7 separate regions of the Homo sapiens genome follow, and regions 1, 2, 3, 4, 5 and 7 are each reported to be linked to region 6. The links are microRNA targets in miRTarBase. Many come from high-throughput screens and were not tested one by one. Region 6 holds a microRNA gene; each other region holds the end of a gene's coding sequence.

The links. The annotated mature microRNA hsa-let-7g-3p reads CUGUACAGGCCACUGCCUUGC and lies in region 6 at 1,717-1,737, opposite strand. An mRNA with a match to its seed (bases 2 to 7 or 8) in the 3' UTR can be bound and repressed. Matches are read on the target gene's strand: a 7mer-m8 pairs with bases 2 to 8, a 7mer-A1 pairs with bases 2 to 7 and ends in A, and an 8mer does both.
Region 1: miRTarBase lists LHFPL6 as a target of hsa-let-7g-3p. Seed matches in the 3' UTR shown: 7mer-A1 at 2,263-2,269.
Region 2: miRTarBase lists MAGED1 as a target of hsa-let-7g-3p. The part of its 3' UTR that is shown has no 7-base or 8-base seed match.
Region 3: the mRNA of FNDC3A is a reported target of hsa-let-7g-3p. Seed matches in the 3' UTR shown: 7mer-m8 at 2,528-2,534.
Region 4: the mRNA of VEZF1 is a reported target of hsa-let-7g-3p. Seed matches in the 3' UTR shown: 7mer-m8 at 1,521-1,527 and 7mer-A1 at 1,078-1,084.
Region 5: miRTarBase lists NFIX as a target of hsa-let-7g-3p. Seed matches in the 3' UTR shown: 7mer-m8 at 1,966-1,972.
Region 7: miRTarBase lists AGPAT5 as a target of hsa-let-7g-3p. Seed matches in the 3' UTR shown: 7mer-A1 at 2,478-2,484 and 7mer-m8 at 2,016-2,022.

The regions. Positions count from the first base shown.
Region 1 is chr13:39,341,388-39,344,468 of GRCh38, forward strand. LHFPL6 (LHFPL tetraspan subfamily member 6) reads right to left here. Exons shown (of 4, transcript NM_005780.3): 4 at 1,505-2,667. The coding sequence ends at 2,549. Among named protein-coding and RNA genes, the nearest start is that of LHFPL6, 260 kb to the right of the region's middle.
Region 2 is chrX:51,901,461-51,904,543 of GRCh38, forward strand. MAGED1 (MAGE family member D1) reads left to right here. Exons shown (of 13, transcript NM_006986.4): 12 at 93-478; 13 at 686-894. The coding sequence ends at 470. Among named protein-coding and RNA genes, the nearest start is that of MAGED1, 9.4 kb to the left of the region's middle.
Region 3 is chr13:49,206,881-49,209,963 of GRCh38, forward strand. FNDC3A (fibronectin type III domain containing 3A) reads left to right here. Exons shown (of 26, transcript NM_001079673.2): 26 at 201-2,899. The coding sequence ends at 515. Among named protein-coding and RNA genes, the nearest start is that of MLNR, 12 kb to the right of the region's middle.
Region 4 is chr17:57,971,653-57,974,735 of GRCh38, forward strand. VEZF1 (vascular endothelial zinc finger 1) reads right to left here. Exons shown (of 6, transcript NM_007146.3): 6 at 1-3,083. The coding sequence ends at 2,821. Among named protein-coding and RNA genes, the nearest start is that of VEZF1, 15 kb to the right of the region's middle.
Region 5 is chr19:13,094,300-13,097,382 of GRCh38, reverse strand. It overlaps NFIX (nuclear factor I X), which reads right to left. Exons shown (of 11, transcript NM_001365902.3): 11 at 1-2,748. The coding sequence ends at 2,734. Among named protein-coding and RNA genes, the nearest start is that of LYL1, 7.0 kb to the left of the region's middle. RefSeq lists an enhancer at 601-1,464 and a silencer at 1,776-1,865.
Region 6 is chr3:52,266,564-52,269,646 of GRCh38, forward strand. It overlaps MIRLET7G (microRNA let-7g), which reads right to left and starts at 1,798; the gene lies at 1,715-1,798. It overlaps WDR82 (WD repeat domain 82), which reads right to left. Exons shown (of 9, transcript NM_025222.4): 3 at 389-455.
Region 7 is chr8:6,756,972-6,760,054 of GRCh38, reverse strand. AGPAT5 (1-acylglycerol-3-phosphate O-acyltransferase 5) reads right to left here. Exons shown (of 8, transcript NM_018361.5): 8 at 1-2,892. The coding sequence ends at 2,667. Among named protein-coding and RNA genes, the nearest start is that of MIR4659B, 13 kb to the right of the region's middle.

The sequences.
Region 1 (3,081 bases), not on the chromosome of region 6:
CTAAGAAGTCACAACACTACTCTACAGGAAGGTGCAGTTAAAAGAAATTTGAAAAGCACCAGCTATACATGAAAATAATGGGCTAATTGAGGAAGCAAAGTGCAATCTTTTCTTCTCTGCCGGAAACCACAGAGTGGAGAAGCCCCTGCTCAGCAGACAATGAGACACAATCAAATCACATTCAGCACAATATGAATTAAGCATCTGAGAGTGGAATGACTTTCTCCACACCAACAAAGCCTCAGAGTGTAGAATTTTATTGGTCAGATCCTGTATTGTTCTTCCAGAGCAGCATGGCTTCTCATCCTGGAATGATTAAAAGTACCAGAAGCAAGTGGAATAGTCAGATATTCAAACTAAATTGATAAATGTGTATAGATAGCATAGAAAATGTACTTACATGAATAAATAGCCAGCATGTTCAATTGCCAAATCTGAAAAGTACAATGAATGTAGAAGCTAACTGAAACTGAATTCTTAAGGATTTGCTACAATATCTCAGGCTTACTAAACAAAAGGCTAGATCCAATATTCAGAATGCAATCTTTGCTCCTGAAGGAGCTAGTTTTTGTTATTTGTTATTATTTATTTATTTTTTTGGTGGGGACAGGGTCTCGCTCTGTTGCCTAGGCTGGAGTGCAGTGTTGCAATCTCGGCTTACTGCAGCCTCCACCTCCTGGGTTCAAGCGATTCTTGTGCCTCAACCTGAGTAGTTGGGATTACAGGAGTGCATGACTATGCCCAGCTAATAATTTTTTTTTTTTTTTGGTATTTTTAGTAGAGATGGAGTCTTGCCATGTTGGCCAGGCTGGTCTCGAACTCCTGGCCTCATGTGATTTCCCCACCTCGGCTGGGATTACAGGTGTGAGCCATCACACCTAGCCCTGAAAGAGCTAGTTCTGTTAAGGGGCCATGTGAGGGTCCAAACCTTTCTCTTTGGTGAAGACTTTCTGCTGGAGGGGCAGGGCTGTTGAGATAAGCTTTTTCAAATGGCCAACATCCCTGAAGGGCAGTGATATAAAATTTTCCCTGACACAGAAGTACAGAAGAAACCCAGCACTTTGTAGAAGCTGGAGGAACAGCAAGTCACTGGCAACTGTAACAGTCGTGTCACCATGCTGGTGACTGTCAGTCCAGTCACCTCCTGAACCACAGTCTAGCTCTTGTTGCCCTAAATCACATCTGAATACCACCCATATTCTCAAACTTAATACAAAACAGACCTGAAGTTCTTCTGTCCTCAGAATTTGGTTATGATTGAAATGTAACAAGCAGGAAGTTAGAATTCTGGTTGCAAAGAATTCACGTTGAAAGCAGAAACTGTCTTACTCATCTTTAATACACTTGTGCCTAGAACAATGCCTGGTTGATTAGTGAGTGAATTAATGAGAGGCCTTAAAAGAGAAAAGGAAATTTTACAGGACTATAGTAGTTGAAGAGCTACATTGGAGAAATTAAAGAAGCAAATCCGATGACTGAATTAACACTCCATGACTCATCTAGCTATTGATCAAAGAGAGAATTTATTCACAGAGATTTTCAAATACAAACAAAATAGCACTTTTAAATTTTTTACAAAATGAATATAGAAATAAATGTGGTACAGCACAGTACAATAATGGACAAAAGAAAACACGATCCAATGACTGGAAAATGTCTCTCATTACTCTCATATCTTCGGCTGAATTCTCTCCTATAGTGGACAGAAAGTTGCCCCTTTTCTTCATAAGAATATCATAGCAGAAGCTACTCAGAGAAATATTGCATATTGTGGAATAACATGGAAATACAAAGGCTTAACTCTAAAGGTCTGCATAAACACTGAAAATATGTTGAGGAACTAAATTAGAGTTTATGCAGGATATACAAAATACTGATAGTTTGGCTTATTGGTCCATTTATTAGGCTTAATGTATGTTTTATAAAGTGATAATACTGTATTTTAAATGTATATTAAAAAGAAAACAGAGGAGAAATGCACCACTAAACCTCCCAGTCTGTGCGATAATCCACGTTTGTGCATAGGCGTGTGTGGGGATGCATATGTCTGTATGTGCTTGTGTGCTTTTGGGAGTGCCGTGACCTACAGGGAACATCTTTGGGGGTACCCTGCTTCCCAACATAACACTGTTTCTACTAGCCCTTTGATTTTCTGAGTCCTCACCTTAAAAAAAAAAAACTAAAACCCAAACCCTTGTTTGTATATGTAGATTTGTTGTGTGTGTGTGTGTGTGTGTGTGTGTGTGTGTGTGTGTGTGTGTGTTGTACATTAACAATACTCTGTGGAATAGAAACACCCGATGCCCTGCAATATTTTTAGCCTTTGGTCCATTTTTCTCCATCATTCTATACTCTCCTTTTTTTTCCCCCACAAATCTCCTACAATCCTTCCTTCCTATATCATGTTCCTGATTTTATCGGGTTTCATTTTATTAGCATTGTATTGGATTAGAACTACTATCCCACCTTTTGAAGGTAGGTGGATGTTTTGACCTCTCCAAGCCCCTTTGGCCCATCTTCTCCTCTGTCTGCTCTTGGTAGCTCCATCTCAGTATGGGTAGTGCTTCTGTTTCTTGCCCGAAAAGCAAGCCAGCCACGTGCACAGCAGCATGGCGGCAGTGGCACCTGCTCCCGTGCAGTAGTAGGCCCAGCCGATTTCACACTTCCCTAAGGACAAAGGAAGGGGAAAGAAGAAAGTCACAGATGAGGATGATTTTGCAGCAGGGTTTCTTATTGCTTCCAGTGTGTGGGTTCTGAAACACCCTTTAGGAATATGGTATCCTCGCTTAAATGGAATAATAATGTGCTGAAAGTTATCTTGACAGTGAAGAAAGCAAGAATGGCTGGATGCATTTCAGAAGGATCTCAATGTCTACCTCTCACACGGGCTAAGAGAAGTCTAGTCTCCTCCACCAATATCCACACCCTGGCCAAAAATAGAGAAGAATGGCAGCAACCAGGATAGGAGATGAAGGAGTTAATTGTAACTTACATCACCCAAGCTCACCTGCGTAACAAAGTACTTTAGGGAAAAAAATATAAATGTTGATGCAATCCTTCTGCAAAAGGGCCACTTTGAGG
Region 2 (3,083 bases), not on the chromosome of region 6:
TTATCCATTCATCCACTGATGGACAGGTAGGTTGATTCCATATCTTGGCTATTGTAAATGGATTTTGTTTTGTTTTCTATTCCTCATCTCAGGTTCAGAAAAGAGACCCTCGTGACTGGACTGCACAGTTCATGGAGGCTGCAGATGAGGCCTTGGATGCTCTGGATGCTGCTGCAGCTGAGGCCGAAGCCCGGGCTGAAGCAAGAACCCGCATGGGAATTGGAGATGAGGCTGTGTCTGGGCCCTGGAGCTGGGATGACATTGAGTTTGAGCTGCTGACCTGGGATGAGGAAGGAGATTTTGGAGATCCCTGGTCCAGAATTCCATTTACCTTCTGGGCCAGATACCACCAGAATGCCCGCTCCAGATTCCCTCAGACCTTTGCCGGTCCCATTATTGGTCCTGGTGGTACAGCCAGTGCCAACTTCGCTGCCAACTTTGGTGCCATTGGTTTCTTCTGGGTTGAGTGAGATGTTGGGTAGGTACATCACTTTGGATTGGGCAGTTAGGGTCTCTGGGGGATATAGGGTCCATGGGGTTGTATTTATGTGCATGAGCTAGAAGTATTAGGAAACTCATTGTAGGGAGATGAGGAAAGTATGGGGCAGCACTCTTTGGTATGTATATTCCTTATTATTTGATATATATCATTGATTTTTTTACTTCTTCTTTCTTATGTTCACAGATATTGCTATCAATCGCAGTAGTCTTTCCCCTGTGTGAGGCTGAAGCCTCAGATTCCTTCTAAACACAGCTATCTAGAGAGCCACATCCTGTTGACTGAAAGTGGCATGCAAGATAAATTTATTTGCTGTTCCTTGTCTACTGCTTTTTTTCCCCTTGTGTGCTGTCAAGTTTTGGTATCAGAAATAAACATTGAAATTGCAAAGTGAATTAGATGTGCTCTCTGCTTCTTTTTTTCCCTATATTTGGGGAGCGAGCAACATGTTTATGTGGGAGAGACAGGACCTCAGCTGTAGTTTGAAGGGTAGATCAGCTTTCAGCAGGTGGAAATGTGGGAAGATCTAGCTACTGGATTGGGATACAAAGGCAGGATCAATGAACACGAGACCCAAGAACTAGTATAGTTTATTCAATAAATATCACTTAAGTGACTCTCATGTGATAGATATGCTGCTAGGTGTCTTGGAGTGACATTGCGAGAAGTCGCATAGTGAGAGAGGGTATTGGTGCTCAGACAGTTGCACTTAAGAACACAGAGGAGGTGGAGCTCCAGGTGATGATAAGGTCCAGAGAGTAGGTAGTTGAAGGGGACAGAAGGTGACTATTCTGGAGATAAGGGGTCCATGGCCTGTGATTCTAGGGTGTTGGTTATACAACCCATGTGGAAAGTGAAAGAACTCCAGGAGGGCAGCAGGAGTAGGAGTAGAGAACACTATGAGTTAGATGCCAGAGTCTCCTCTGTGAGAAGGAAGATATACCCCTAGCCACATTGCTCATAAAGGGATGGGCTCACAGGCACTCCTCCCCATCTCTGGAAATGCTGCCCAGGATCCTGTCCCTCTAGGAGGCCCTCACAATCTTCCCACTTGCACAGGACCGGGGCTGCCTCCTCGAGACAGGATCTTATGGGCAGTGAAGGAGGCCTCACAATGGCCTCTTCTCTCCTGCAGGGAGAAAGAGAAGACTTTGTTACCTCAAGAACAAGAATTACAAAGTAAGACAAAGCTCCATGCACAGGCTTTGACTGTGACTGTGAGCAGGAACTTGGCTTGAGCTGCTGAGTTCTATGCTGGAAGCAAGGCTCTCCCACTGAGGACAAAATTAGGCCTAGGCCATGACTTCCTTGGGTGCTTGGTGGTATCTGGACATGTGGACAAGGGCAGAGACGGGAGCTCCTGGGGCACAAAAAAGAGCAAAGGCAATTTGGCCTCCTGGGAAGGGTTTGGTAGTGGGTAGGGATGGTGTCCACAGCTTCCTTAGGTTCCTGAGTGATGTCCACATTCTGAGGAGAGAGCCCAGGATTAATAGGAAGGAGACAGCAGTGCAGGGCCCCAACGCCTCCCCTGCCTGTTGTCCTCATTGCCAGGCTCCCCTCTTTCAGCCAGGCCTGGATCCTGACCCTCAGGTAGGCCTGGAGGAAATCTCAGCCTGAGGCCTTTTTGGCAGGGATTGCACCAGCCCTGCATCTCCATGATGCCTCAGGTCTGGGCTGTAGTTCCTGCATTTCTGGGTGCTGTTTTTTCCACCTTTTGGTGCAAAACACCCAGGCTCGGTGGGGTTGGGGCAGTCTTTCTGTGGAGAAGGTGCTTCCACCATGTGCTGTGTCCACAGCCAGCTTGGGTAATGGAGTCCCCCACCTACCTCAGGCTTCTCCCGGTGTGTGTTCACGGCCTCCACATTCAGGTGGACGGACTCCACCTTGCAGCCTTGGAAAAGAACAATCCATCTTTCCATAAGTCCCCAAGGTAGGCACAGGTCTTCCATGGGGTATCACCTCCCTCCCATCACCACCCACACTCCCAGCTTCATACTGTGTACAGATCATGACTTGCCTGGGGAATTTAGACAGCTGTGTGATGTGTGGGGAAGACACCAGGCCTAAGAGGCAGCCAACAGGGCATCCTGTCACCTCTGCCCCTAACAGTCTTAGTTCTCTGAGCTTTAGTTGCTCATTTGTAAATGGGGATGGAGATGAGAGATGAACTCTACGGCTGCCCACAGCTCTTGAGGTCCGCAGGACATCAGTCGCATCTGTGTAATATTGATGTAGCTCTGTGGATCCTCCAAGCCGTGTTAGGTGCTGAAGAGGTGCAAGAGTCCTGGGGCTACTGCCTTGGGTGATCAGTACCAGGCAAAGTTTATCAGGAGGACAATGTGGTTGTGGCAACACCAGGAGTGTGGAAGATCACGTGGGAGTTTTAGGGAACCTGAAGAAGGAAGAGGGTGCATCTTTGGGGTTTGGGGCTGCATCTTTGGGGTTTGGGGCTGACAGAGGAGGCCTAATGCCTGTGGAAGCTCTGTGGACTGCACCTTACTCCAGGCTTCAGTAGGCCATTCTGCTCTGTCCACACCCCAGAATAGGTTTGATTCTGTCCCTTCCCTGCTCATGAAATTCTTGT
Region 3 (3,083 bases), not on the chromosome of region 6:
CTTTTGAAATTTCTCTTGCCCCTATGCAACAAACAGATAAGTACTTTAATGGACAGGTATTTTTAACATGTCATTTAAAAGATAAAATCAATGGCATTCACTGGCTTTCACATGAAAAACAATTCTAACACTAGCCAGTTTTAACACATTTTCTGTCCAGCCTTCACACGTAATTCTTCCTTCTAATATTTTATTAACAGATTTACAAGGGTCCCGACTCTTCCTTCCGGTATTCCAGCCTTCAGCTGAACTGTGAATATCGCTTCCGTGTATGTGCCATTCGCCAGTGCCAAGACTCTCTGGGACACCAGGACCTCGTAGGTCCCTACAGCACCACAGTGCTCTTCATCTCTCAGAGGACTGAACCACCAGCCAGCACCAACAGAGACACTGTGGAAAGCACAAGGACCCGACGGGCACTGAGTGACGAGCAGTGTGCTGCCGTCATCCTTGTGCTGTTTGCTTTCTTTTCCATTTTGATTGCCTTTATCATTCAGTACTTTGTAATCAAGTGAAAATATAACTTTATTTTTTAACTCTATTACATTTTATTTTGTCATGTACTAAAATTATTTCTGTATTGCTTTTATAAAAAACAGTGGCATTTAGCACTGGCATTGAGACTATAGCACATCATTTTTGCCATTTTCAGTGCTTATATTGTTAGGTAGAGGCTGGCACTTTATTAGAATGCAAGCCACAAAAATATCAATTTTGTTTTTTTTGTTAGGGTGGGTCTTCTTTTTTTCTTTCCCTCTCTCTTTTTTTAACAAATGCCTTCTTATAGAAAAACTTTCTAAGAGGCAACAATTTAGAATGGATATTTTGACGAATCGGCATGAGTGTAACAGTGATAACCTGATCTGTTTGTTTTAAAGATTATTACCAAGTGAAAAATTCAGAATGAATAGAATTTACACTAACATGCTATATAAAATGTTAAAGTCTGATGCTGTGAAAGCAATCTAGTGCTATATTTCTACCTCCTCATTTGTCTTAATTATTTGGTAAGTGGGATTATGATGAGTAACTGGAGGGGCTTAGAAACAAAAACTGGATGAAAGAGTATGCATGAAGAAAAGCTTCTTTGATAAATGTGGAGTTCTTCATTATAAATATATATTCATGAATTCACAGATAAGTACTTAAAGAACAGACAGTTTACTTGGCCTAAAAATATTTTGATGTTTACTCAAAAAGTACCTCTTCAGGTCTTGAGAACATGGAAAAGAATTGAGTGCTTTTAAATACTTTTTAGAAAGTAATCATAAAAGTAAATTGAATTTCAAACCTATTTGGCTTCTGTTTTGTGAACCTTTGAACTATATGTATGTGTATAAGGGTATACACATACATATATGGCATATAACAAGTGTACACATATACACATAACAAGTGTAGAAGTATATATTACATACATACACTCACTCTGTCTGGTATAGGCTAATTTTGAAGAACTCCCATAAGTTTCTGCTGCTTCTCCCATAACTGCTGCCACCACCATCAGAATTCATAATCAAACCTAACCTTTTTGTTTGGGGCACCAAATCTGAAGACAAAATTAATTTGCACCAGTAAACTTCAAGCTGCTTTCTTTCTTGAAAACTAAACGTTTAACGTATAATGTCTGTTTGGATACTGTTCCAAATTGTTGATTGCATGTGGTTAATGTTGCATTAGAGCACTTTGCAATTGCATAATTCATTAATGTTTTGTGAGCTTGCATTTGTGAGTTATTGGATGATCAGACTGAATTTTGTCAAGTATCACATTGTACATCTTGCCTAGATGTCGATGACTGCAAGTAATAATACAGTTTATAATGAAACTATCTACAATTCTTGTTTTAGCACATCTGTTATCCGTAAAACACCTGTAACTAGCTTTTTTAATTTATTATTTGAATTTTAGGATAGCGAATCACTAATTTTTAGTTGCTGAGGTTGGCATTTTAGTGATTATTAAGCACTTCTGTCAGTCTTTGAAAAAAGAACGTATTTTTTGTGCTTTGAAGATCTCTGAAGAATTTCTTTTATAATAGAATGGGCATGTATTGTAACAGTTTTATGTCAAATGATCTGTGCTGTAGAAAAACATTAACCCTTGTTCAAAAAAGAAATGGATAAACTTGGCCTTTCTAAGTGGTAAGAATGACCTGTCACTATAATATACTGTATGTTTACATTTTATTTAAATTTAATCTCTTATGTATAGGGTGATAACCTTCCCCAGAAACAACAGTGATTGCGATTGTTTTCTAGAAACTTCTTTAAAGTGCCACATTTGGCAGTACAAATGAGTCTGAGTGTAATAGCCCAGAGATTTATATATAGTTGAATGTCTAAAATGGTAAAATGTGCCACTGTGTCAAGTTACAGTGGCTTATGTTTTTCATAGTAATTCAAATGAACTTCCTATTTTTGATAGTAAATGTCATTTAATAGTATACTTGCCATTTGAGCCTCACTGCAAAATTAGTGCAGAGGAGAAAACAATTTTTAATGTAATCTTGATTTTACCTCATATACTGTACATTCCAAAAACTCTAAACTTTTTAAAGATTATAGATACACTACCAAACATATCACCTTAAAATTGTATAAGGCTGAATGAACTTCATACAAATGAAAAAAATCTCATAAAAATACATAAACTATGTAGCAAAAGTATCTGTAAAATCCATGGAAAATAAAAGTTGTATCATTCTTTTTGAGATACGTTTATTGTATTCATATATATTCATTATTTGCTACCTGTTTAAGAAAGTGAAATGTTATGGTCTCCCCTCTTCCAATGAGCTTAAAACATTTTTCCCAACAGTATATAAATCTTCAACATGAGAGGATGTATATTTATTATATAAAGCCCAGTAAAGAATAAAATTAGAAGTTTTATCCTAGTGACTTGATTTTGTGCAACTCATGAAATATCTTACTTCCTTTCCACATATAAAGAATACAGTGAGTCTAAGGTAAACTTCCCAGTGGGAAGAAAATCCCTAACCTCTCCTTGCCTTTCCCACATCCCTATTTTCTAGTACCTTCTTTCGCCCACCACCAGAGGCCCAGAACCTTCCTGGTAGT
Region 4 (3,083 bases), not on the chromosome of region 6:
TAGAAACCTTCATTCAGGAGCACACCGTAGGAGGGGAACGGATACACAATAAAAAGCAAACGCAGGCCAAGCAGCGAGCCCTAGAGCGTAACAGGCTGGATGTCAGATTTAAGGATTATCTAATACAACTGTTTAGCTGCCAATCTGATAAAGGGGAAGCTCTCAACCAGGTTACAACCAGAAGGGAAAAACGTACTCTGCCTTTTCGTAGAGCAGTGGCTGTCGTGCCTTCAACACCTGGTTGAATCAGTTCATCAACATCGAAACTCAATTCCAGTTCCAAGACACAGAATTTCATCACACAACCTATTCGGTACCCCTTTTCAGTGGCCCACCCAAAACCCCCTCCTGCCATCGACTCTCTCCCTCCCAAAAGAAGACATGACGTGGCTTTATTATTGCAGACAAGCTTCTTAAGTGAATAAAGAATGCATACAAAATAGTATTTTAACTGAAGTCATACAATGAAGTCTCACTCCTGTTTATTATACAATGAATTGATAAAACAATTACTTCTAGTATATATCTTTTTTTTTTTAGAACTAATACTTTCAGGGTTCTGACAACCACATTCTAGCTTAGGGGTAGGGCCCACACCTGCCCCCACTGAGGACTGCTCCTTGGACCACTGTGGAGGAAGCCTGGGCTGTCTGAATTGTGAATTATGACTGCCAGCCCACCAGAGATAACAGATCCCAGCAGGCAGAGCCAGAACCCAGTTTTGGGTCTGCATGCCAGGAAATGTGAACTTCCTCCAAATGTGGCCACTGTGCCTCCCAATCCAGGCCTCAGCAAGGTCATTCTTGGGCTTTCCCTACACGAGTCCTTCCAGTAGTCCACACATAATGCTCTACATATTAAAAACAAACCATTTTTGTACTGTGGATAAGAACAGTTGTAACAAAGTCATAGCTACATATTTTTCTCTACATTTTGTTTATTGAGACAAACTAATTAAAAGGCACAAACATAGGGCATGTTTACATGGACATTATAACAAACATATACATTAAAAGTGTAGGAATGTGTTGCCTTCCTGCTAAACAGAAAGTTCCTAAGCTTTTATATATACAAAAGTTGTACAATTTAATGTCCTAAAGTACAAAAGATCATTTATAAAATTATTTTACACTAAGTACTATTTATTTTATTTTTTTACTATGTAGTTCAACCCCCTAGAACTGTTTTGTATAATGACACACAGATACCTGTCCCTGATGTAGGAAGTCTGTCTCAGATGCAAGGTATTTTGATGCTTGAACTGACACAGTAGGGTATAAATGGAAATCATCCAGTTTGATAGTCAGTCCTGCAAACATTCTGCAAGATTAACACAACTAATTTCCATTTCTCTTAACTGCAATGATTAAAAAATGAAAAAAACCAAAAACATATTGCAACTTAAAAAATCACAGCATCTTGGTTTAGTTAATTTTTTTTTTAACGCAATGCTTTAAAAACAATGCGTGGCATGATGGTGTAAAGAGTATCTGTTTCCCTAGCTTTTGGTTTCTACTTTATGTACAGAGATAAAATATCTTGCTAAGAAATAAAAAGCACATGTCTCAACGTGCATAATCATTGCTGGGTTTCTACAGGGAATGCAGACAGCTGTCTCCCTGAAAACACCACAAAGCTGATACAAGTGTTTTCTCAAAGAAAAAAAAAGTGATGTCCATATTTACAAAGTTGAACAAATCTGCGCAATACTTAAGAAACGGAAGGAGAAATTTAAAAAAAGATACACTCTGCATGTTCTGAAGGGGCATACACTACCTAGTTAGTGGTTAGAATAAAAACTGTATACAATTTAATATAAGACATAAACTCTAGTGAGCAACTAACACATCTGTCCCTGTTGTAATATCAACAGGCTCTGATTGGGAGAGAGAGGGGCATATCACATCCCAGTGCCTCCAGCGTCTTCCAATTTAAAGCAATATATTTGTACTGTTCCAAAGTACTCCTTGGCTCCTAAATAGGAATCCCACTGGACTCTGTTTATTAGGAGCTTGCCTGTCCACACACTTGACTTCTCCTCTGTCAGTTGAGGCTTTTCTTAGCAAAACACAATTTGTAGATTTTTTTTAAATTTTTTTTTTTTTTAAAAAGTCAACTACAATGCTATATTCCATCGGGATTAATATGCTGAGCAATATTTACATCTCCAAATATCAGGTCACAATCCCTATTATACGTTGAAGTTAGAATGATAAATTATCATATGCTTTGCATATCAGAGCTGGTATCACCTTTCCCATAGGGAATGCTGCCTGAAATTAACATATTCCCAAAGGTAAAATGCATATTCTCTGAAATGCATTTTATTATGACAATGCATGTATTTACTCATAAAAACAATAAACACAGACAATTCTACACTAGCTCTCAATCTGTGGATTTAAAATTTCAGGTTAAAATCAGCCATCCACCTTGTATAGGGAGAAGAGTTCTGCTAGTGTTTACAATAAAGTGATTCCTTGGGATTAGAAATAGTAATGCTGTTTTTTTATTTTGAAGTGGGTTCTACTTATGATTGGTTTTAATTCTGGCATTTCATCTTGCCAACTACTATCCTGTTTAAGCAATGTTGTCAGCTAAAAGGAATTTCTGATTAAACTAAAGTGGTCCAGTGATAAGTTACATACACACCCTACTTTGAATAATCCCAGCCAAATTGGAGAAAAATGCTACCACACTCTTATTAACTAATGTAATAAAATCTCCCAATTTCATGGTTTACTTTTTGCTTTAATCAACTAAAAGTTAAGTTGCTGGTAAATATTTACTTTTACCCATATTTTGATTTTATAATACTGTTTACCAAGGCGGTGATGTAGGCAAAGCTTGGGGCAAGAAAGGCATGCTCTCTACAGGTCTCATTGCTATATTGAGAGGGGCGGCTAATGTCATAGGTGTGGGTAGATTCATTGGAGATGTGATGGTGACAGGGTGTGCTATATTCACTGGGGCAGTGACGGGGGTGGGGAGGTTGACTGGGGTAGTGAGTGTTAAAGGAGAGGTCATGGATAATGGACTGGTTATAGTTACAGGATGCCCTATGTTCATTGGGCTGGTTATGT
Region 5 (3,083 bases), not on the chromosome of region 6:
AAAATAATTTTTCTCTCGTCCTTTTCCTTTTTGATCTTGTGTTGGTTGATTTTTTAAATGTCGAGGTGTTTTTTTTAAACTCTAAAATGTGAACGTTTCCTTCAGCCCTCCCACCGAAACAGAACGAACGACGAAACAAATAAAAACCCCAGATCATCCTCGTCAACGCAGGAAAACGACTTAAAAAAAAAAAAACTAAAAACGAACAAAAAAAAGGGAAAAACACTCAGCTTTCGTTATCCCCGCGCAGGGCGGGGCAGGCCCGGTTCTTTTAGCGTCCCCAGAGCCGCGAGGACATTACAACAAAAATAGAATTTTTTTTTCTTAATCTCTTAACATACAAAGATAGGAAAACTCTCTGATGCATTGCACTTGGTTCAATGAAAAAAAAAAGTTAATTTCCCCCATATATATTTTTGTTTTTTTTTTTTTCTCTCCTAACACGTCCCCACATCTCCTGTTGCCCTCATTGCCCCTCACAACACCACTTGGGAAAGGAGCAGCCCCCACCCCCTGCCCGCCCGGGCAGCCCCGCCGGGCACGCTCCGGCCCGGGCCCAGCTGGCCTGCAGCTTCCGACCTCGCCCGGGCAGGCGCCCCGCAGACCCTAGCTCCCACAGTCCCACAGAGCCCGAGCCCTCGACTGTCGTCGAGGGAAAGGGCACGTGGGCCGGACAGGGAGCCCCTTCTGCTTCGCTCTCAGCTCTGACCCTGTTTAGCCAACCGAACTGAAAAATCATTGCACTTTGACCGCGCGTCACGCCCGGCCCACCCGGCCCCCCACCCCCGGGGCCTTACTCCCCACGCCCCGGGAGACTCCCGCAGGATCCACTGCCCCTCAGCCCTGGGGTCCTCTAGGGCTGCACGCTGAGGACAGGGGGAGGGCTTCACTCAACTTCCAACAAAAGCCGCCCCTGGAGCCAGCCACCTTGTGGCTTCCAGCTGGGTAGCAGGCACCGTTCGCCTGCCGCTACGGCCCCAGGTCGCTGACCTCCTCCCCTCCCGTCACTCCCTCCTCTTCCCTCCCTCCGCCAGCTCGGGGCCACAGCCTCACAAACTAGATTCACAATAAATACAGCCCATAGCCCACCCCTACGTGGTGCAATGTTGATTTTCTCTCAGAGGATCCTGACCTGTGCTTTGTGTTTTCATACAATTAAGAAAGAGAGAGAAAGAGAGAGGCACAAGGACTCAAGAAGGGGCCAGGAACGGGAGACGCAGGAGGAGGAGTAAGGCACAGAAAGACAAGCCAGAGGGGCCAAGTCACACCCTGGAGGGGAGCTGGGCGTGCTCATCCTCCCCTCCCTCCCAGGGGGGCTTCTGAAGACCCTCTGGACAGGCCCCCCAACCCTCCCTTGAGGGAGGAGGGGGCTGGGGGGGAGAGCTACTTCCTGTGGTGTGTTACCAAATTGTTCCCAAGTTGCTCAAATGGAGGAGGAGTTCCCATTCCAACAGCAAAAGACCCAAACAATGAATGCCCCACCCCTAAATAAAGAGTAAAGACATTACAGCTAAAATCCAGAGAAAAGTGGCCACGTGGGGGGCGGGGAGGCGGGGGAAAGTCGGGGGGCACAGAAAGCTCCAAAACACTTTTGAAAAGGACGACACCCAACACCCTCCCAAGGAACTGAAAGTCGGCGAGCAGGACGCCTACCTAAGCGCAGGTGGTGGCTTAGCGCGGCAGCGGCGGCTGCCTGGTCCTCCTCGCTCGGCTCCGGGGTCCCCTTTCTGCTCCACCCTCCGGCCCGGCCCCAGCAGGGCAGTCTGCATGAGGGGCAGGGGCAGGAACTGATGGGGCGGAGCGAGGGCACCTGCATGCAGGGCTGGGGGCGGGGGCGACCTGGGGCCCGACTCCCCTCCCTCGTGGCAGGAAGGAGGCCCTCCTGGCCTGCAGAGAGAGGGGAAAGGGGGCCTGTCCCAGGCTGGGACGAGGCCGTCGAGAGCATTCCGACTTTTTCCTACGGACTGTACAGAGGGGTCCAGGGCCCCAGGACTGCTCTTGCGGCTCAGGGTGGGGTGTCAGAACACCCTCCATTCTGGGACACGCAACTAGCTCCAGGGGTCACCCCCTGCCCGCCTGGGGGCTTTTAGCCCAAGGGTGGGGTGGGGTAAGTGGAGGCTGCTCTCCCCCTCCTGGTCGGGAGCAGCTGGGGGAAGAAGCTGGAGCCTTGGCAGAGAGGGAGGGAGGGAGGGAGGGAGGGAAGGGCGGAGTCTGGAGGGGAGAGCCTGAGGGATCTAAACCCCATCATCTTTACAAGCTGGCCCTCCAGGCTCCCTAGGGCAGCTCCGGCTGTGTGGAGGGTGGGGTTCCCCTAGGAAGGGGTGAGGGTGGAGGCCAGGCCCCTTCAGAATTGTGCTGGTTGCTTTGTTTGGGGACTTTGTTCCTTCCCCAGAAGGCCGGGGCGGGGTCAGGGGGAGGAAGGCAGTTCTGCATCCTTTCTTGCTTTCTGTCCTCTACTTGACAGAGTCCATGTCGCGTGTTTCTTTCTGCTTGGCTGCTGGTGCACAGCTCCACCGAGACCCCTTCCAAGGGCTCTCTGAGAACTGGGCTGCTTCTGGGGCCCGCGGGGGTCCCCGGGCTGGAGGAGAGAAGGGCTGAGTGGCTGACGACGTGTAATTTTTGCTTTTCGGTGGGGCTGGGCTGGGCTGGGGGATTTTTCCATTCTCAAAATTTCTTCTCCCCCCTTTCGAGGAACCTCTTCTTCTCATTTTGTTGTTTCTTTTGTCGATCTTATCAGAGGAACCAGGACTGAAACAGGATGAAAAAGAGGCGATACTGAGAACAGCTGGGGCAGGTCCCATCTCACTCCTACCTGGCCCAGTGACCTGGCCCCTCAAGGGTCCAGCTCCCAAAGAGCCAGGGTGCCGGGCAGCCACCACCCACCTTGTTCCCATGGAGAAGAAAGGGCATCCCCATTCTCTCCCTCCCTCCTGCGAGAACCCCGCCCCCTCAGAGACTCTGCCCCTAGTGCTAGAGTCCAGCTGGCCTTCCCGTGGGCACTGTGCCCAGCGGGTGGGACCCCCATGGCTGGCGCTGGCACAGGCCTGAGATCTGGCCATGTTTCCAATTGTTTAGGTTTTTGT
Region 6 (3,083 bases):
AGTAGCTGGGATTGCAGGTGTCCACCACCATACCTGGCTAATTTTTGTATTTTTAGTAGAGATGGGGTTTTGACACGTTGGCCTGGCTGGTTTCAAACTCCCGGCCTCAAGTGATCCGCCCGCCGCGGCCTCCCAAAGTGCTGGGATTACAGGTGTGAGCCACTGCACTGGGCCTAGTTATATTTTAACTGAGGTATCTCTGAACACCTACCTCTGCACCTCTATAACCTCAGTAAATCAAGAGTTGACTATTTAAGAGAAGATGAAGAATGCCAAGCAGTAGTGAGGAAGTAGCTTCAGTTCACTAATAAGCTCTCTCTAGCCTTCTATTCTCTGGGTAACCTCAGGGATAAAAGAACTATCTGCTTCTATAATACGTGGGTCTTACCTTTTGCTATGTCCAGGAAAGTATCTGATGTATTTGTTGTCATGCAAGGACAAGTAACGAATAGTATCTGTAAAAAGACAAACAAGGTATGATGATATCATACTATTTAAAAGAAATTTACTTTACATTTTCATCTTAAAAAGACAAGGTCAAATAATCCATTGTATTCTATATCCCAAGCAAGGCATGAATAAATAATGGTGAATAATTCTACTCTGCAGCTGAAGAGTGGGTATGTAGATTTCACCTAACTCAAAAGCAGAGTTCTTAAGTTGACAGCATAGAAAGCAATGTTTGAAATGACCTTTTATTACCAATTTGGTTTCTTCATAATTACAATGCAACTCCCACCCTGCAAATATACCCTGGTCAAAAAACAAAAACAAGTAAAGCACACATAATAATTTTAGATACTGGTCTAGTGTCCACAGAATGGCAAACCTTAAAGAAAAATATGTGGCTGTTGAGCTAACAGACTTAAAGAGGTGAGCAGCCATGGCAGTTAAACTGAAGATCAGGTTGAACCCTGGCAGCAATTTTTGTCTAGAGTTCTCCATCAGTATGTTGACCCACCCTCAACTCATTTGAACATTCTTCAATTGGACACACAAATTACAATGAAAATAAACAAAACGTCAGAGAAGTGATGTCAAGATCTGGGTTAAAAAGATCTTAAGACATTAAAAAAATCAAATTCTTATACCAATGAGTAATAGCAGTGAGATTTTGACAATATTAAAGAAAGGAACAATCAGAGATTTGTGCTTGTGGAAAAATAAGACACTCTTAACCAAATGATTCTATCTGAAAGAGTAAACAAACAAAAAACATGGTGGCGGTAGAGAAATGAAGTGCCATAAAGAATAAAACTGCAAAATAGAAAAGTATTATCCCCTTAAAAAGACTAGGAATAAGGAAAAATTGTTGAGAAACAGCTAAGGGAAAATGGTACCAAAATGCAGAAAGAAAACCATAGAAAGAACATTCTGAAGGCAAACAGAACATAGGAATAAAGGGGTTGAAAGCATCGAGTCATCCCAGGGGTTCACAGGGGTGCTTTCTAATAAGAGGGCATTTAACTTGGGAGGGGGAATAGGGGAATAGGGATATTTGTATATTCCATAACTTGAACACTACACAATTTTCCTTGAAAACATCTTCAAACTTCTTGAATGACAACTACGAAGTATTTCTAGTTATTCTACTGCTAACAATGACTCACCTGCCCTAAGAAGAAAAAGACTTCCTCCCCATTACCTGGTTTCCCAGAGATGAGCAGGGTGACGCCATCCTCTCAGCCCCACTTGGCAGCTGGCGCGCTGTTCCTGGCAAGGCAGTGGCCTGTACAGTTATCTCCTGTACCGGGTGGTATCATAGACCCTCAAACTGTACAAACTACTACCTCAGCCTGGAATCAGGCAAAAGGAAACGGAGCGCTGGAGGAACTCTTCAGGATGCACTTGAGACAGGAAAGGGAACATCCTCACAGCAGAGGCTTGGCAGCAAAGCTACAAGTGCCACACATTTGCCTCATCTTGCACCACATTTGGAGAATCCTCATTTAATCACTCAGAAAAACATCCCAACAGAAGAAATAAACCAGTCATTCGGATGATCACATAGACATGTTTCCTCAGGATCCTAAGGTTTTACATTCTTTTCCAAAATCATTAACTACACTGCTTCCTTAGAAAACCACTTCTGAAATACAGGCATGAAAAGTAGAAATGACATACTTAACTAAAAATCAATACAGGCAGAAGAGTCTCATTAAAAAAAAAAAAAAATGGAAAAAAGGACTTCCGCCCATTCTGCTCTGAGATAGGCACAGCCAAAATAGCAGTATAAGCTATCCTTGTGGAATGACATTAGAAAAATCTTTTTTGTTTTTTTGAGATGGAGCCTCGCTCTGTCACCCAGGTTGGAGTGCAGTGGTGTGATCACCCTAGACCTCCAGGGCTCAAGCAATCCTCCCACCTCAGCCTTACAAGTGGCTGGGACTACAGGCGCGTCCCATCACACCTGGCTAATTTTTGTATTTTTTGTAGAGACGGGGTTTTCCCAAGTTGCCCAGGCTAATCTCGAACTTCTGTGCTCAAGTGATCCACTCTCCTAGGCCTCCCTAAGTGCTGGGATTACAGGCATGAGCCACTATGTAGCCACCGGCCTAAAAAAAACCTTACTGCAAAATGTGAGATGATCATCAATAATCCACTGAAATAAGTTTAAAAACAGAATCCTGGCCGGGCGTGGTGGTTCACACCTGTAATCCCAGCACTTTGGGAGGATGAGGCAGGCAGATCACTTGAGGTCAGGAGTTCGAGACCAGCCTGACTAACATGGTGAAGTCCCAACTCTACTAAAAATACAAAAATTAGCCGGGCGTGTTGGTGGGCACCTGTAATACCAGCTACTTGGGAGGCTGAGGCAAGAGCATCGCTTGAACCCAGGAGGCTGAGATTGCAGTGAGCCGAGATTGCACCATTGCACTCCAGCCTGGGCAACAAGAGCAGGACTCTGTCTCAAAAGAATAAAGAATAGGCCGGGCACGGTGGCTTACAAGGTCAGGAGATCAAGACCCATCCTGGCTAACATGGTGAAACCCTGTCTCTACTAAAAATACAAAAAATTAGCCAGGCATGGTGGCATGCACCTGTAGTCCCAGCTACCTGGGAGGCTGAGGCAGGAGAATTAC
Region 7 (3,083 bases), not on the chromosome of region 6:
CCACTCTAAATTTTAAAAATCACATGGAAATGAAACATATGAAAAACTATCAGTATGTATGGTGTAAGAGTTAGCCAGATCGGCACTTTTATTCACCAACTTAGTTAATTTAAGGCATTTGACATGTTTCACTGAGATCACTTAATGATTACAGAATTGCCAAGCAAATTAACATCGGCCATGCATCTTATAAATTGCAGATGAATTTATATAACCAAACTAATATACTGCTTAACAGTTTTGATTATTTTAGTGTATTTTTTTAAAACTTTGCTCAAAGCTTAGGGAAAAATATTGTGAAGAATGCAGGGCCAGTCATTAAGCCTATTTTATGTACTGGGAGACTGTTGGTGAATTTTAGGGTCAAAAAATGTTAAACAGCACAGCCATTAGAGACAGTGAAAGATTTTATTTTTTTTTTTACTTTCATCCAAACACACCCTTTTCTGAAAAACATAAAAGCATGCACATCGACGGCATTCTTATAAAGAAAAATTAATAACTAAGCTGTAAATCAGTAATAATACAAACAAAAGTTTAAATGATATGTGAAAAGACTTACAGGTAGGTATACGGCTCTTAATTTTAGAAAATAATTCAAGTCAGTATCAATACAGGTTAAGGAGAAGCTTCTAATTTTCCAAACATTTTGATACAAAATTTTTTTCAACGACTGTATTTTATAGACCTTTTGTGAGAAGATTAGTATAGTTCTATGAAACCTAACATTCAAGTGATCTTATGCAGGTCAGGCTACCTTGTTAAAATGAGTTAGAATCCACATAATTCCAACAGTATTGCCTCTCAAAGTTCAAATTTAGAACATACCCATTATATTCAAAATATATTAAATCCCTGTACTTAACAAAGACATGGAATTGATCTAAATTTTACTTTACAGGTAAGAGAAAATTACAATTCAGCATGAGGAAATTTTCATAAGTTTTACCCATGCCCCGATTATTAGGCCAACTATATCCTGAGTGTCCATGGATGTGTGCATACATTCTAATGTACACAAACCAATTCACACCACACGACTCTTCAAAGATGATGCTTGAAAGAGTTTATTCTCTGGCATGGGAGAAGCAGTGTAACACAGTCACTTAATTTTCCCTTAATCATTATTTCTTTCATTTTGCTTATCATGATCCAACTGGTATGTTTAATGTGGGCCACTGATATATTTCTGCAGCAAAAATCCAGTAGCAGTAAGCAGAAATGTCAACTTAAAGGACTATGAGGAAATCGAAGTTTAAATTATAACACAAAAATAGAACAGTTCACACTGAAAGGTCTTCTCCCATGGGATATATTGTTCCATGGCTAAAAATCGTGATCTGGTTCCTGGAACACAGCTCTTGCTCTAAGGCGATACATATTAATGTGTAGCTCCACTAAACCTAATGGGAAATAAACAAATTCGTTCAGTCATGACAAATTAAGTCTGTATTTCACTGGCTTGAGAAGGTGAACTTCTTGACACAGACAAATGCAAAATGCCTCTGCAGTAGCTGGTGAAGCCCACTCACAAGGGCTTAAAGAGTTCAACTCTGAAAGTGGGCAGCACAGGCTGGCTCTGCATTTCTTCCTAGCAAGTCTGCGTGCAAGCCGCTGAGCAGCACCACTGACGGGATCCAAGGGAAGGACCAGAGCCCAGTGGGAATCCACCACACTACAGAAACGCGACTTCTGAATGAATATTCTGTGAAATCAAAGAGAAGCAGGCAAAAGGCACACGCTAGTAAATCTAGGCAGAATGTCTGCAGGCTCTCATCACCTTAAAAATCTTGTGAACTTGGGGTCCAACCAAGGTTCACACCGACTCTTTTGATATTAAAAAAACAAAACAAAACAGAAAACCTTAACGTTTTCAAGCACTTATGGCACAGACAAAGGGAAGTACTAATAGTGTAGCTTAAATCTTCAAAAAGCTGGGAAATTTAAAGTTCTGCTATAATGAATCAGAGTCACAATTTTAAACTTCGTTCTCATATTTTATACCATTTTCTGTGTGTACAGGGTGTGCAAATTAAGCAATTTCAATAAATATTAGAAATTTATTTTGCAAATATAAAATGAGTAAAATCAGCTAATAACGCAATACAATAAAATCATGTGCTAAACAGAGCTTTTTCCCCATGAACACTTTTTACCCTTTCCTTTGAACATCCTGACACTTCCTAAATACAATTTATTTCACTGACTTGTAGAAATAAGCAAAAGATGAAATATTAACTAGCTGCAAGATACTAAATACTTTAGTAATAAGAGCTTGGAGCTGTCAAGTTGTAATAAATTGAAAATAACAGAAAAAGTGAAATACGCTGCAAATTAATGCTCAAAAATGCAGCCATCTGACTTGCAAAATACACAATCCTCCCAGCCTTCTCAAGTTGTCATTAGTTCATAGGAAATGGACAGAGCAGGAGAAACTCCATTTAGCTTTTACCCTTCCAGCAGCCCCGATGCTAAAGTTGTACAACCAGGTATGTTTGCCCAAGACCATTGCATATCAGCTTTCGTCACAAATTCTATTATCCAATCTTCAATCAACAAGGCTTTATTTACACTCCTTAATAAATTCAGGAAACAATTTGATGTCATGTGCAGCCGCCAAAAATAGACAATGTAGCACATCCCACTGTCTGGAGACAGCTACTTGTCTATGCTTTAATAGTAACCCACAGGCAGCCAAGTAGGGTTCCATATATCCAGGTGTTCACATACAGCTTCCTTCCAGCATCGGTCATAAGCATGCCTGCAGTCAAACCACTTAAGATCAACATTGATGGTAAAGTCTTCTTGATACTTAATTTGGAATTAACACTTTTCCCAGGAAATCTTTTTCTTCTTTCTGGATCTGGTGACTCATAAAATTCTATAAGCATCCTATGGCCAGAATGGAAAAAGTTTAGATTTTAGTCACTTCAGTATTTCAATTCAAAAAATATCAATCAGGTAGCTATTACACGCTGGAAAAGTTATGCAGGTCCCTGGAAAATAAGGATGAATACGGAAACATCCAGAAACTTGGTTTAATAGAAGTTTCTAGTCTTCTAAAATATCTTTAATATGCTCTA